Linked DNA regions of Homo sapiens. The protein of the gene in region 2 purifies or fractionates together with the protein of the main gene of each other region. This does not show direct contact. Each region holds a gene or a part of one and is shown on either strand. Other genes may lie near its edges.

Evidence for each region. Proteins that work in one complex are often made in the same cells at the same time.
Region 1: the proteins of SLC35A2 (region 2) and ATP2B3 purify together in Homo sapiens (affinity purification with mass spectrometry; one large-scale study listed by BioGRID and IntAct). This does not show direct contact.
Region 3: the proteins of SLC35A2 (region 2) and ATP2B1 purify together in Homo sapiens (affinity purification with mass spectrometry; one large-scale study listed by BioGRID and IntAct). This does not show direct contact.
Region 4: the proteins of SLC35A2 (region 2) and TMED6 purify together in Homo sapiens (affinity purification with mass spectrometry; one large-scale study listed by BioGRID and IntAct). This does not show direct contact.

Annotation. Positions count from the first base shown.
Region 1 is NC_000023.11:153,548,642-153,552,141, forward strand, and holds part of ATP2B3 (plasma membrane calcium-transporting ATPase 3), read left to right. Parts: coding exon 1-213; intron 214-855; coding exon 856-1,098; intron 1,099-1,403; coding exon 1,404-1,645; intron 1,646-3,500. UniProt on the Homo sapiens protein: ATP-driven Ca(2+) ion pump involved in the maintenance of basal intracellular Ca(2+) levels at the presynaptic terminals. Uses ATP as an energy source to transport cytosolic Ca(2+) ions across the plasma membrane to the extracellular compartment.
Region 2 is NC_000023.11:48,908,847-48,913,002, forward strand, and holds the start of SLC35A2 (UDP-galactose translocator), read right to left. Parts: upstream 2,801-4,156; 5' UTR 2,791-2,800; coding exon 2,700-2,790; coding exon of another isoform or gene 2,661-2,699; intron 1,472-2,660; coding exon of another isoform or gene 1,388-1,471; intron 1,151-1,387; coding exon 968-1,150; intron 1-967. UniProt on the Homo sapiens protein: Transports uridine diphosphate galactose (UDP-galactose) from the cytosol into the Golgi apparatus, functioning as an antiporter that exchanges UDP-galactose for UMP.
Region 3 is NC_000012.12:89,590,694-89,593,838, forward strand, and holds part of ATP2B1 (plasma membrane calcium-transporting ATPase 1), read right to left. Parts: intron 603-3,145; coding exon 291-602; 3' UTR 1-290. UniProt on the Homo sapiens protein: Catalyzes the hydrolysis of ATP coupled with the transport of calcium from the cytoplasm to the extracellular space thereby maintaining intracellular calcium homeostasis.
Region 4 is NC_000016.10:69,345,769-69,348,786, forward strand, and holds part of TMED6 (transmembrane emp24 domain-containing protein 6 precursor), read right to left. Parts: intron 2,169-3,018; coding exon 2,020-2,168; intron 1-2,019.

The sequences.
Region 1 (3,500 bases), about 100 Mb from region 2:
CTGGTGATGTCTGCCATCACCGTCATCATCCTGGTCCTCTACTTTGTGATTGAGACGTTTGTCGTGGAAGGCCGGACATGGCTGGCAGAGTGCACGCCGGTCTATGTACAATACTTCGTGAAGTTCTTCATCATTGGTGTCACTGTGCTGGTCGTGGCTGTCCCAGAGGGCCTGCCTCTTGCTGTCACCATCTCCTTAGCTTACTCTGTCAAGGTAATCATAAAACTTACAGTTGATACTGTTTACAGACTCGGAAACTGGGGTAAGAAGTCATTGGGCGCCTTGGTGGCAGTATAAACTGGGGACGTTTGGGATAGCTCAAGGGAGGAGAGGAGGTGCCGAGCAGGGACCCAGGGGGCAGCTTTGCTGATCTGTCAGCTCAGGTCCCTCGGCATGAGATGGGCCAGAAAGCAGGCAGGCGGTGAGATACCCAGGGGTTCAGCATCTGCACAATGTGGGCAGTAGGACGGAGGGGCTGGGAGGCAGCGGGGAAGCGGAGAATCAGCAGAGGGCCCGGGACACTGGGAGGCAGTGGGAGGAGGTGGGGGGAGCCAGGTGTGGGGTGGTGGGGTGGTGGGGTGGTGGGGTGGGAGAGCTGCAGGGCTGGTGGGTAACTGAGAGGGGGCTCGGGCAGGGGAGGTCCCGGGTGCGCATCCCGCCCCCACCATTGGATGAGGTTGCTGATGCCTTACAGCCTCGCTATTGGCTCAGGGCTGACCAGGTGCCCAGTGGGCTTAGTGCCACACGTGGAGCTAGCTGAGCAGAACAGAGTCACGCGATGTTTGTGTTGACATCTCTCACTCCTCCACCCCAACAAGCACCTGGGCCAAATGCCCACACCCTCGCCCTTTGCAGAAAATGATGAAAGACAACAACCTGGTGCGCCACCTGGATGCCTGCGAGACCATGGGCAACGCCACAGCCATCTGCTCCGACAAGACGGGCACGCTCACCACCAACCGTATGACCGTGGTCCAGTCCTACCTAGGAGACACCCACTACAAAGAGATTCCGGCCCCCAGCGCCCTGACCCCTAAGATCCTCGACCTCCTGGTCCATGCCATCTCCATCAACAGTGCCTATACCACCAAAATACTAGTGAGCTGGGGCAGGAGCGGGCGGGCAGGGCCGGGGGCAGGAGCAGGGGAGGGTCCTGGCCAGGGTGCCAGGTGAGCTGTTGCAAGGTGCTCATTAGGCCCCCCCTTGAGAACTTTTGCCCATCCCTGGCCTCACAGGTGGCTCTGGCTGGGAAACTGCCTGTAGCTAAGGCCGACCTTCCTCTGCTCCCTGCCGCCCACACCCTAACAATGTGGTGACCACGAGGGGGCAGAGCTGGGGCTCCAGGGGCAGCATGGAGGGTGGTCTCAGGCCCCCAGTGCCTGCTAGCCCTCGTCATCTTGCAGCCTCCTGAGAAGGAAGGCGCCCTCCCACGCCAGGTGGGCAATAAGACGGAGTGCGCCCTGCTGGGCTTCGTCTTGGACCTGAAGCGGGACTTCCAGCCCGTGCGCGAGCAGATCCCGGAAGACAAGCTTTACAAAGTGTACACCTTCAACTCGGTCCGCAAGTCCATGAGCACAGTCATCCGCATGCCCGACGGTGGCTTCCGCCTCTTCAGCAAGGGGGCCTCAGAGATCCTCTTGAAAAAGTGAGTGAGCAGCAGGGAGGTGCCGGGGTACGCACGGAGTTTCTGATTCTATTGTCGTGGTAAAAGAGGCCGAACGTAAAATTCACCATTTCAACCACTTTACAGTGTACAGTTGAATGGCATTAAGCACGTTCACAATATCATGCAACCGTCACCACTACCCAGTTCCAAAACACCTCCATCAACCCGGAAAGAAACCCCAGGCCCATGAGCAGCCCTCCCCACGCCCCTCCCCAGCCTCATGTGCTTCCTGTCTGTATGGATTTGCCTGTCTGGACATTTCCTATCAAGGGACTCATACACTGTGTGGCCTTTTGTGTCTGGCTTCTTTCCTTAGTGTAAAGTTTTTCCGTTTCCCTCAGATATTAGACCTTCCTTTCTTTTTTTGTTTTGTTTTGTTTTTTCCCTCAAGCCATCCTCCTACGTCAGTGTCCCCCGTAGCTGGGATTACATGTGCATGCCACCACGCCCAGCGAATTTTCAAATTTTTTGTAGAGCTGGGGTCTCCTCATGTTGCCCAGGGTGGTCTTGAAGTCTTGGGCTCAAGCGATCCACCCACCCGGCCTCCCTAAGTGCTAGGATTACAGGAATGAGCCACTGCCACCAGCCCGAACTTCCATTCTTTCTAAGGCTGAGTAATATCCATTGTATGCTAAAGAGCATTGTGTTGGTCCATCCATCCCTTCATCTGTCTACCAGCACGTCTACCAGCACGTGAGTCGTTTCCACCTTTTGGCTGTCACGAGTCACGCTGCTGTGAATATTCACGTACAAGTTTTTGTTTGAACCCATGTTTTCAATTCTTTTGCGTGGACATCTAGGAGAGGAATGGCTGGGTCGTGGTGTCCACGAAACTGTTTTCCACAGGGGCAGCACCGTTTCACATTCCCACCAGCGACATAGGAGGGTTCCACCTTCTCCCCATCTTCAACAGCACTTATTTTCTGGTGTGACAATGCTGATGGGGGCCATCCTTGTGGGTGTGAGGCAATATCTCCTGGTGGTTTTGATCTGTGTTTCCTTGATGACTAACAACGCTGAGCCTCTTTTGCTGTGCTGACTGGCCATTTGCCTGTCTTCCTTGGGGAAATGTCTGTCCTAGCCCTTTGCTCATTGCTGAGTTGGGTTGTTTGTCTTTTTATTGTTGGGCTGTAACATTTTTTCTGTATTCTGGATCCTAGATCCTTATCAGCTATGCGATTTCTACACATTCTGTCCCATTCTGTGGCCTGTCTTCACTCTCTTGATAGTGTCCTTAGGTGCACAAATGTTTTAAATCGTGATGACGTCCAGTTGATCTATTTTCTTGTTGTTGCTTAGAGATGATGAAAATTTTCTTAGAGATGATGAAAATTTTCTGGAATTGGAGACTGGTGATGGTCGTGCAGCTCTGTGACTATACTAAAAACCATCGAATTATCTACTTTAAATGGGTGGACTGTGTGGTGCGTGAATTATATCCCAATAAAGCTATTAGAACAAAGTAAGGGAGAGTGCACAGCGTCACCTCCAAATGCCCTGGCTTCCCCACTCCCACTCAGCCTTCCCGGACTCCACACCCTTGGCCTTGGCGTCTCTGTCCACAAGTCACCTCGCTCCTCATGACTGCCGTCCCAGGGCCCTCAGGGCAAGGTCCTCTGCAGGACGCCCAGGGCTCCCCAAAGGCCCAGGCCCACGCTCCTTCCTGTGTTCTGCGGACTGGACCACCAAGTGCACCCTGCCTGGCCGCCCCACCCACAGCGCTCTCCCAGAACTCTGCCAGGTGCAGCGCTCACTGCCAGGGCCAGGACCACCTCCTCCCTGGAGCCATCCCTGCTGGTGTGGGGGCCTCAGCCCTCTTTCTGTGCTTCTTTTT
Region 2 (4,156 bases):
ATCTCCATCCCTTTACTTATGCAAGACCTTTTTAGAGAAACAATTGGGCAACACTTCAAAGTAGAAGGCCTTCAGGGAGATGTTGAAATTAGCAGATAAACCCAACTTCCAATTTACAAGAGATGTAGAAGACAGAATACTTGTTAAATTTTTGAGAATATTTGCCTTAGGGAGGCAGTCAGCAAAATCCAGACTACCCAAAGTCTACAAAACAAATGACCTGTTTTCTCCAACAAATTAATTGCAAAGACCAAAAAACCCCTAGAGATTAACAGATTTAGAAGATACCAAACAAGGCCAGCCTGGTGGCTCACGCCTGTAATCCCAGCACTTTGGGAGGCTGAGGTGGGCGGATCACGAGGTCAGGAGTTCGAGACCATCCTGGCTAACATGGTGAAACCCCTTCTCTACTAAAAATACAAAAAAATTAGCTGGGCGTGGTGGCACGTGCCTGTAATCCCAGCTACATTTATTCAAGATAATTCAGGGGAATTTACTTCCATACAATATTACTTCGTGTGGGATTTACTTAAAAATAATAAGAGGATAAGGACGTAGGTAGACATATAGATTGGCAGTGAGTGAACAATCACTGATGTTGTTTAAAGCGGCCATGAGTTGCTAATTGCTGACTCTGGGGGATGGGTACATGGATATTTTACTATTTGATTATTCTCTCTGATTTTGCATGTATTCGGAATTCTCCATAATATGAAGCTAAATCACATGTGAGAGATCCCTGCTACTTTATAAGCATTGGCAATCTCACTCCTACAGCCCACACAGGCCGGCTACCCGGCTGTTAGGGCTAGAAAAGTGTAAGATGCCGCTACGCATAGCTGGAGTGGCGCTCCAGGCAGGTTGAGATTTGGAGACACTCCTGAAGCAAACCATCTGTGTGAACACACACACATACATGTGGAGTCTCACCCACCGACCCCAGTGCAGCCCCATCCCTGGTTCGTACCCCTCTTCTGTGCGAAGAGCAGCAGCAGGCAGGTGAGACCTTTGAGCACTTCCGCCATGACCACAGCAGTGGTGGCAAAGAAGCGGTCCCCTGGCAACGTGCGGGCGTAGCGGATGCTGAGGATGAGGGAGGCATTCTGGACCACCAGCACAGCTAGGGATATGTACTTCAGGCGCCTGTGAGCTGTGGGGAACGGAAGGGGCAAGGGGGAAGGACGGGGTCAGAAGCCGCTGGGGCATAGCCACACCACCACCCACCCCCTTTCTTTCTCACCCAGGACCCTCCTAGCCATGGCTACTTGCTCCCTCAGCCTGCCTGCCCTCACCCAATAAGGGTCTGACTCCTACCGGCTTACTGCCTCAGCCATGAGCAGGAAGAGCCAGAAGGGAGAAATGGGCCCCACCCTGTCCCAGTCCATACCTGGAATCCTTACTGAGGTGTCAGGTAATGGCTGAGGCAAACCCTGGCCACGCGCCTCGGCTTCCTCCCAAGTGAGAAGCAACTCTTCCCCAGAAAGAATACCGACAACTACATTCTCCACGTTTATTGAGTGTTTACTGTATGCCTATCACTGGGTTAAGGGATTTCTATGGATTACCTCAATAGACTCATATCACTGTCATCTCCAAAAGAACTGCGAGGATTCCCATTTATGGATTAGCAAACTGAGAATTTATATGAAATGATGCTCCTGTTTAATGAGGGACTGTCTCATGTAAAGAATAACACATCAATGCAGGGAATGAGGCCACTGTATGAGGTATGTTCACCCCCTAAGAACGGTCTTTCTCCTATCTAAGAAATGATTCGATTCCCTCACACTGAGAATGGCCTACATCCCATATGGAATGATCCTCCTCATACCCAGAATGGTCTCTCCAACCCCTCACTCCTGTGACAACTGGTTCCTCTCGAACCAGAATAGTCTACTAAATACAAGAAATGATTCCCACATGCTCCCAGGGACTGAATCCTGTATCAGGAATGGTTATCCCACCAAGAAAGGTCTGGCTCCCTCAACCAGATGAGGAAATACTTCCCTGCACTCCACATGGTCTGCCCTCCCACCACCGCACACGGACCCTCTAGCTAATGAATTTTTCCTTGCTCTACCCACACTCACAATGAGCTCTCTCTGCTATAAGGAAGGACCCGGCACTCTCAGAACGTTCTTTCTCCACCATATAACGATGAGCCCTCCCACCCGAATGTACAATGAACTCTACCTCCATTAGGAGGGAGCCCCCAGAACGGTCTCCTCCGCACATAATGAAAGACACCCCCATCCTCAAAATGGACCCTCTCTAGTCACATAAAGAAGGACTCGCCCCACCCTAACTCACAATAGTCTCTGTCCCTTTATAAGGAAGGAACCACCACCCTCAGAATAGTCTCCCCCTTCTTCAGTGAGGAACTCCCACACCCGCAGAATGGTCTCTTCCACACGGAAGGACTCCACATATTCAGAATGGTTTCGGTGGCCTTAGCCTTCCCAAAAAGAATTACCCACCACACTCACAATGGTCTCTACTCTCCATATGCGGAAGGATCCCACAATCACTCTCAGAATGTTCTCTTCCCCGCCCCCAACACACTGACAATGTGCACACACACACACACACACACGTCGGTCCACACGGGATGCTCCCTCTCACTTTAGTGAGGAACATTCCCGACTCCCAGCGATCCCGACCTCCGCCTCCCATGCGACTGCTCGGGCAGACTGTCTCACCCGCACTGGCGGTCCCCGGCTCCAATGCACCCGCGGAAACCGCCCCTGGCCCGGGCGCCGCGGTGGAACCACCAGCCCCAACCGCTGCCATGTTGGCATCTGCCCGGCCCGTCCCCTCGGCAACAGAAAAACCACTTCCGCGTTCGTCACTTCCGCTGCCGGGCCACCTGAGTGAAGGTGGAGCGAGAGCCGGGATCGTCAGGGTGGTGGCTTTTCTCCTCCGCTCCTAAAAGCTCAATGTATGAATAGCCCCGGGATTTCCAAATTCCGTCGGATCGGGAGGCCGGGGACACGGCCCGATCGGCCTACCCACCATCCCTACAGAGCTTCATCGGCCCATTCCTGTCACTAGACCCGCCTTATCCTGCCGTTCGTCCGCTTCACTGATCGCGCTTTCCAGATCATCCCCCGATCTTGTCTCCTAGACTCATTGGTTCAGCCACCCCTTTCATCTCGGCTCTTTATTGGCAGCTTCTCCATAAGGCGCCGCCCTTTCCGTATCAGAAACTACCAGGTGCTTCATGGTTGGACTGAAATTCCGCTTTCCCGTCTTCCAGAGAGGCCTCGCCCCCTGGAGAGCACACGGGAATCTGGGGACGAAGAAACTTTGACCTGGCGGGGTCGGGGTGAGGGCGTACTGGCATCAGGTGCGAGTCAGGAATGTTAAGCTAGCAGATAAAAGCAGAGCAGGTGAGGATAAACAAGTGAAAATGCAAAGGAAAGTTGACGCACATAAGGGAAGACAAGTGAGTCACCACTGAGGATGGCAAAGGGGACAGGCGAAAGGCTCACAGGTTAGCTAGCATTTGGAAGCAGGGCAAGAGTCCGGGCCAGAGGCGGTGGCTCACGCCTGTAATCCCAGCACTTTGGGAGGCTGAGCCGGGCGATCACCTGAGCTCAGGAGTTCCAGCCTGGGCAAAACGACAAAACCCCGTCTCAAATAAAAAAAAAAAATTACCCGGGCTTAGTGGTATGCACCTGTACCCAGCTACTCTGGAGGCTGAGGCAGGAGAACCGCTGGAACCCGGAAGGCGGAGTTTATACTGAACCGAGACAAATAAGCAGGGCAAGAGAGGGAACAACTCAGGTCGGAACAAGTGAAACCAACATGGAATAGGGTAGGCCAGGTAAGTCAAGTGTTGAAGGAGAAATTAGAGGGATGGGTATGTAAGGGTAAAGATGGGGGAAGAGGCTAAAGATAAAGAGCAAAACAGGTGACTACACCCTGGACAGATTCCAGTCAGCGCCCAACCCCAGCCCCGCCCTGGCCAGTACCCTGACAGGGCTTTTCTTCTGCAACAGGGGAAAGGGCTTCTTCATTCCCCTGGGGTGCCAGGGAAGGTAGTTTTTCTGCTTCTGAGATAGCCATCTTGATTGGGGATGTGCCCTAAACACCTTCAATATGCACAGTATCTCCAACAGAGAACCCTTCTGCACATACTGGGCACTGCATAAGA
Region 3 (3,145 bases), on a different chromosome or scaffold from region 2:
AATACACTGTTCAGGACCATGCTTGGGTACTACTGATGATCCACAGGTCACTTACGCTGAGTTACTGTTTATCTGTCAGTTCATTTCTCCCACCCCCCAAAAAGCACCCTCAGTCTGGCAGAAAGCTTTGCTTTTTTTTTTTTAAAAAAATAAATCTACATTCGTACAAGTGTGTCTTCTGTTGAAGTCCAAAGACAAGAATACTAGCTTGTCCATCACAATATGTGAAAAGACCCAGTTTCAATTTGTTTCTTTACAATGCAGCTAGTGTGTTAACATTCAGCTTACAATCAGAGTGATGTTTCCAAACTATGTAGTGGGCTTCCTGGGGATGAAGAGGTAGCAGACTTGTTCATTTCTATTGTAAGGTGAATTCCACTGTCAACAGCATTGTTATTTTTGTTGGGAGAGGGTGGAGGACTGGAGTTACGTTTTGTAGGAGCATCATCTTCGGCATCAGTGTCATCAATAAGGGGGATATGAGGCTCTGAATCTTCTATCCTAAACTCAGGATGTGTCATAAAGTTGTGAATCGAACTTCTTGATTCCGGTTTTTCTAACCCTTCATATAAAGAACTACGAAATGCATTCACCACTCGAATCTGTAAATATCAGAAAATACAGAAATATGTCAGTACACTATTAACAACTTAAAAATGGTTCATTTATGAGTTTGAATCCACAAACAGCTAGGTATGAGTGAATCATATTTGCATGTAATGCAGTGGAACTTGCAATACACTGTAAAAAAATGAATATTTTAGTAAGACACTACAGAACAACAAAACCACATACTCTAAGAATTAAGAGGTAAAGAATTCAAAGTAATATTAAGAAAATCTCATTGTCATTGGCTAAAAATTTAATAGCCATTTTATAGGATTTTTTCCCTAAAAGAACAAATCAAACACAAAACAAAACAAAAACTTAACCATACACAAGCTTAGCTGATTTTTTAAATTAAAAAGAATGTATTTTGAAAACAACTCAAATAAGTTAAACAAAATCAAGCACAAAGGGTTACTATTTATCATGCTAGGAATTAGGGTGTCACCGACCATGAAAAAGCCAAGCAAATATAAGCTGAATGCCACAATGAACTCACATCTACCCCACTACTCCCTTAATTAAAAACAAAAATAAGAACAAAACCCAAATAAATGTCTATAAAATGCCATTAAACAGCTATAAATATTTGAGTATATGCCATTTGTCTATCATTTGTCTATAAAGTTTTAGTGTTTTTCTCTGTAACAGATTAAAACTTAAATCAATTACTACAGTTATCTGGAAAGAATAGATCAAAAACAAAAACAAATCCTCTGGGATTCTTCTGTGAAAAATTTCCCAAGAAGACACAAAGTGTTAAAAGTTTTCTAGTATTTTCACCCCTAAGCAGATAGCTCAACAATTCATCTTCCTCTCAGTCTGCTGTATAAATGAAAAAGATTAGTGGGCAATCAAACTTAAAAACATCAGTGCACACACTGACATTAAGTGCTATTAACTCAAGCGTCATTCAGATTTAGAAAAAAAAGGACAAAATCCAACTAGTTGAGCATTTACTATGTATCAATTCAAATACAGTGTTTGCTTTTGCTTTGATTCTAATAAATCCTGTTTAGTAATAAAGACATCATTTACTCATTGTTAAGAGAAATAAATAACACTTTGACATTCTAGAAAAAAGATGCGGTCACCAAATTCATCTCTTTAGACAGCAATAATGAATAATACATTTCTTCAAATGAACATGTGAATGTGTTTAAAAAAATGTAATGTAGAGTTTAGGGCCATGCACCCACATCTCACCTTCAAGTTGTCTTTCCTTATTTGCCAAGCCCTATTTGTAAGCTGCTTTTAGTCCATATTCACTTAGCCCTTTATATAGAGAGTACAGCATAGTCAACTGAGAAATACAAAAGCAAAATGTCTGGGTGTAAATTCCAGCTCTGCCACTTACTACCTGAGGAACCTCGGTCAAACAGGTTTCTTCAACTATAAAATGGGAAATAGCAATGGTACTTGCCTTACGGGGTTGTTGTGGGAGATTAAATTCGTTAGCACACTACAAACTTAAAACAATGTTAGGTCACAAGTATCGAGGCCAGGGCTTCTCGAACTTTAATGTGCATACAAATTAGTTGGGGATCTTGTTAAAATGCAGATTCTGATTCAGCAGGGGCCTAAAGTCCTGCATTTCTAACAACCTCCAAGGTGATGCTAAAGCTGCTGGTCCATGATCCACACTTGGAGCAGCAAGCATCTATTCTATTAATGTCTTGCAGCTTTACCATCTTTTATAATTCCATTCTATTTGATTGCTTGTACTTCAGTTCCTTAATTTGACTGATGAATAGCAGCAAATATTTTTCAACTTCTTTTATTGCTCTTGTTCCTCTTCCCCTTTACTAAGATGTAAAGTGTTCTACATATGGAATGTAAACAATGTTTGCTAAATATAACGTTATAGTAATTCATTCAGTGTTTTATTGTGAAGTCTTAAAATTCACATTTTATACATGTGAACATTCAGCAAGTATCCTGACTGTCCTAATAACAAACTGTAAAGCTTAAAATGCAAAAAGATAACTTTCTAAAAAAAAATTTGTTGGTATCAGCAGCCCGTAGGCACGGAGGAGAATACAAATTAGAGGATCAGCCAGCAAACTTGATGGGTGATGAGAACTGTTCAAGACAACCCTGAAGATGTTGCTTATTTGATAAGGTTGCTGGTGCTGCTGCTACTGAAGATAGAACAACAGTTAAGCTTTCTGTGTATGTGTGTGTTTTCCATCTGTTTTTCTTTGTAATCAGTCGGTATAAAAGTGAGCAGTGAAGAATCGGGGGGAAATAAATGTACTTTTTAAACATGTTAAATTTGGAAAATATCTAGAGCTCAGAAGAAAAGTGTAAACTTAAGTTAGAGATTTGAGAGTTAGTGAAGCTCTAAGAGGGGCAGAGTGTAAAGGTGAGGGCAACAAGTATATGTGCACACACAATCACACACATACACCGGTGGCAGGCAAAGAAAGATTAAATCCCTTCTTAGCAAAACTTCAATTCTGAGAAGATTTTTCCTATCTGAATTTGTTGAACAATATTAGAGATTTTTTTTTTCTAACCACTTCATAAATAATAAAAC
Region 4 (3,018 bases), on a different chromosome or scaffold from region 2:
CCTGGGTTCAAGCAATTCTACCTAAGCCTCCCGAGTGGCTGGGACCACAAGTATGTGCCACCACACCCGGGTCATTTAAAAAGTTGTTTTGTTTGTAGAGACAGGGTCTTACCATGTTTCCCAGGCTAGTCTCAAACTCCTGGGCTCAAGCTATCCTACCTCAGCCTCACAAAGTGCTGGGATTACAGGTGTTGGGCCAACTGGCCTGGCCTAAAATGGGCAAAGGACTCGAACAGACATTTCTCCAAAGAAGAGAGATGGCCAATACGCACGTGAAAAGATGCTCAACATTATTAATCATTAGGGAAATGCAACTCAAAACCACAAGATAACATTTCACACCCACTAGGATGACTGTAACAAAAAATAAGTGTTGATGAGGAAGTAGAGAAATTAGAACCTTCATACACTGCTAGCAAGAGTTTAAAATGGTTTAGCCACTGTGGTAAACAGTCTCCAGTAATTCCACTTTCAGGTATACACAGATGAAAACATGCTAACACAAAAACTTGCATGCAAATGTCCATAGCCACGTTATGATAGCCAAGAGGTGGAAAAACCTAAATATCCATCATGTCCATTAACTGATGAATGGATAAATAAAATGTGTATCCATAAAAGAGAGTATTATTCAGCCATAAAAAGAAAAGTACTGATACATGCTACAACATGGATGAACGTTGAGAACATGCTAAATTAAAGAAGCCAGTCTTGGCTGGGCGCGGTGGCTCATACCTGTAATCCCAGCACTTTGGGAGGCCGAGGCGGGCCAATCACCTGAGGTCAGGAATTTGAGACCAGCTTGGCCAACATGGTGAAACCCTGTCTCTACTAAAAATGCAAAAATTAGCCGGGCATGGTGAGAGGTGCCTGTAATCCCAGCTACTTGGGAGGAGGAGAATCACTTGAACCCTGGAGGCAGAGGTTGCAGTGAGCTGAGGTTGCGCCATTGCACTCCAGCCTGGACAACGAGCAAAACTCCGTCTCAAAAAATAATAAAAATAAGCCAGTCACAAAATCCCATGTACTGTGTGATTCCATTTAAATAAAGTGTATAGAGGCCAGCCACAGTGGCTCAAAGTGCTGATTAATCTCGGCACAGTAGCTCATAATGCTGAGTAATCTCAGCTCAGTGGCTCAAAGTGCTGAATCTGAGCACTTTGGCAAGCCGAGGTGGGAGGATTGCTTGAGCGCAGGAGGTTGAGGCTGCAGTGAGCTGTGATCAAGCCACTGCACACTGCAGCCTGGACAAGAGTGAGACCCTGTCTCAAAAATTAAGTATAGAATAGGTAAATCTATAGAGACAGTAGAACAGTGATAGGCAGGCCTGGGGTAATAGAATGGAGAATGACTAATGGGGAGTGGGATTTTGAGGGTGGGGTGGGTGATAAACTTCCAGAATTAGATGCTGATAGTTGCACAGCCTTGTGAATATACTAAAAAACCACTGACTTACACACTTTTAGATGGTGTACGGTGTATGAATTATATCTCAATTTAAAGAAAAACAGGCAATGGGCCAGATTTGGCCTGTCAGCCATACATAGTTTGCCAACCCTTGGTATAAAACGAAGATGGAATTTCAAGAGCTTCAAGTCGTAATTTATTTTGAGACGGTGTCTTGCTGTATCCCAGACTGGAGTGTAGTGGCGTGATCTCGGCTTACTGCAACCTCTGCCTCCCAGGGTTCAAGCGATTCTCCTGCCTCAGCCTTCCGAGTAGCTGGGATTACAGGTGCGCACCACCACGCCCAGCTAATTTTTGTATTTTTAGTAGAGACAGGGTTTCACCATGTTGGAAAGGCTGGTTTCGAACTCCTGACCTCAGGTGATCCACCCACCTCGGCCTCCCAAAGTGCTGGGATTACAGGCGTGAGCCACCGTGCCCAGCCAAGTCATAATTTATGAAGAAATTCACATCCCCTTGCCTGTTTGGTTTCTACCTAAATGAAGTCATCTTCCCTCTGAAGTTAAAAATCAGTTTCCACAGATGTTTCTCTTCCACAAAACACTTCCTTACCTCAATTGCATCCAGAGTATCATTCAGTTGTTTTCTTTCCTTCTGTTTGTGATCAGTCTCAGGCCCCTCATAGAAGACCCCAAAGTTGAGGTACACTTGCACAGAACCGAAGTGATTATGCTGATTACTTAGACAAAGCTGATAAAAACCTGTAGGAATTCTTAGATCATTACCAAGTCTTTGGTCTCCTCCCCTTTGTTAAGGATTCCCTGGAGGTATCTGTCCTCTAGTTTTGGAATTCTACTACAGGACCTTCTTTTTACTTAGAAAGTACAAAGATCCCGTTTTTGACATGGAAGACACGGACCTTATGTTAAACTTATACTAAATATTACTTATTATATTTGGCCAAATTTTAGTAACTCGTTCTTTCCATACTGGGTAGTGGCAAACAATGTTTTCTCTTTAACATATAATTCCCACATCTTGTATTAAGGAACTCCTGCTCAACAGATTGAGTTGAAGTTAAGAGCATGGTGTTTGCCTGGTCCTTGTATACAATTAAAGCTAGGGACACCATCTTGAACTTGAAATTAGGAAAGACAAAAAAAAAAAATAGATGCATAGTGCATGAAAGCAGCTCTCCTGGAGTGATTGCCTCCAAGGCGGTGTGTACAGTGACTCATGGTTTGGTTATATCTGTTGGGGCTGGGGTTGCCTCCCTTTGTGTGTGCGGGGGGGAGGGGGGCGCGGGGTGGGGAGCGGGTGGGAAGGAGCAAGGTGGAGAGGACCGGTAGAAGATGGGTGGGGTGGGATTAGAAAGGTGTGGCAGTGTTTGAAAGTCAAAATGATTGGAAGGCACTACTGGCATGTAGGGGCCAAAGATGTTCAAGATCTTTTTTTTTTTTAGACGAGTCTCGCTCTGTTGCCCAGACCGGAGTGCAATGGCGCGCTCTCGGCCCACTGCAGTCTCTGCCTCCAGGTTCAAGCAATTCTCTTGCCTCAGCCTCCCAGGTAGCTGGGATTACAGGCGCCTGCCACCACACCCAGCTAATTTTT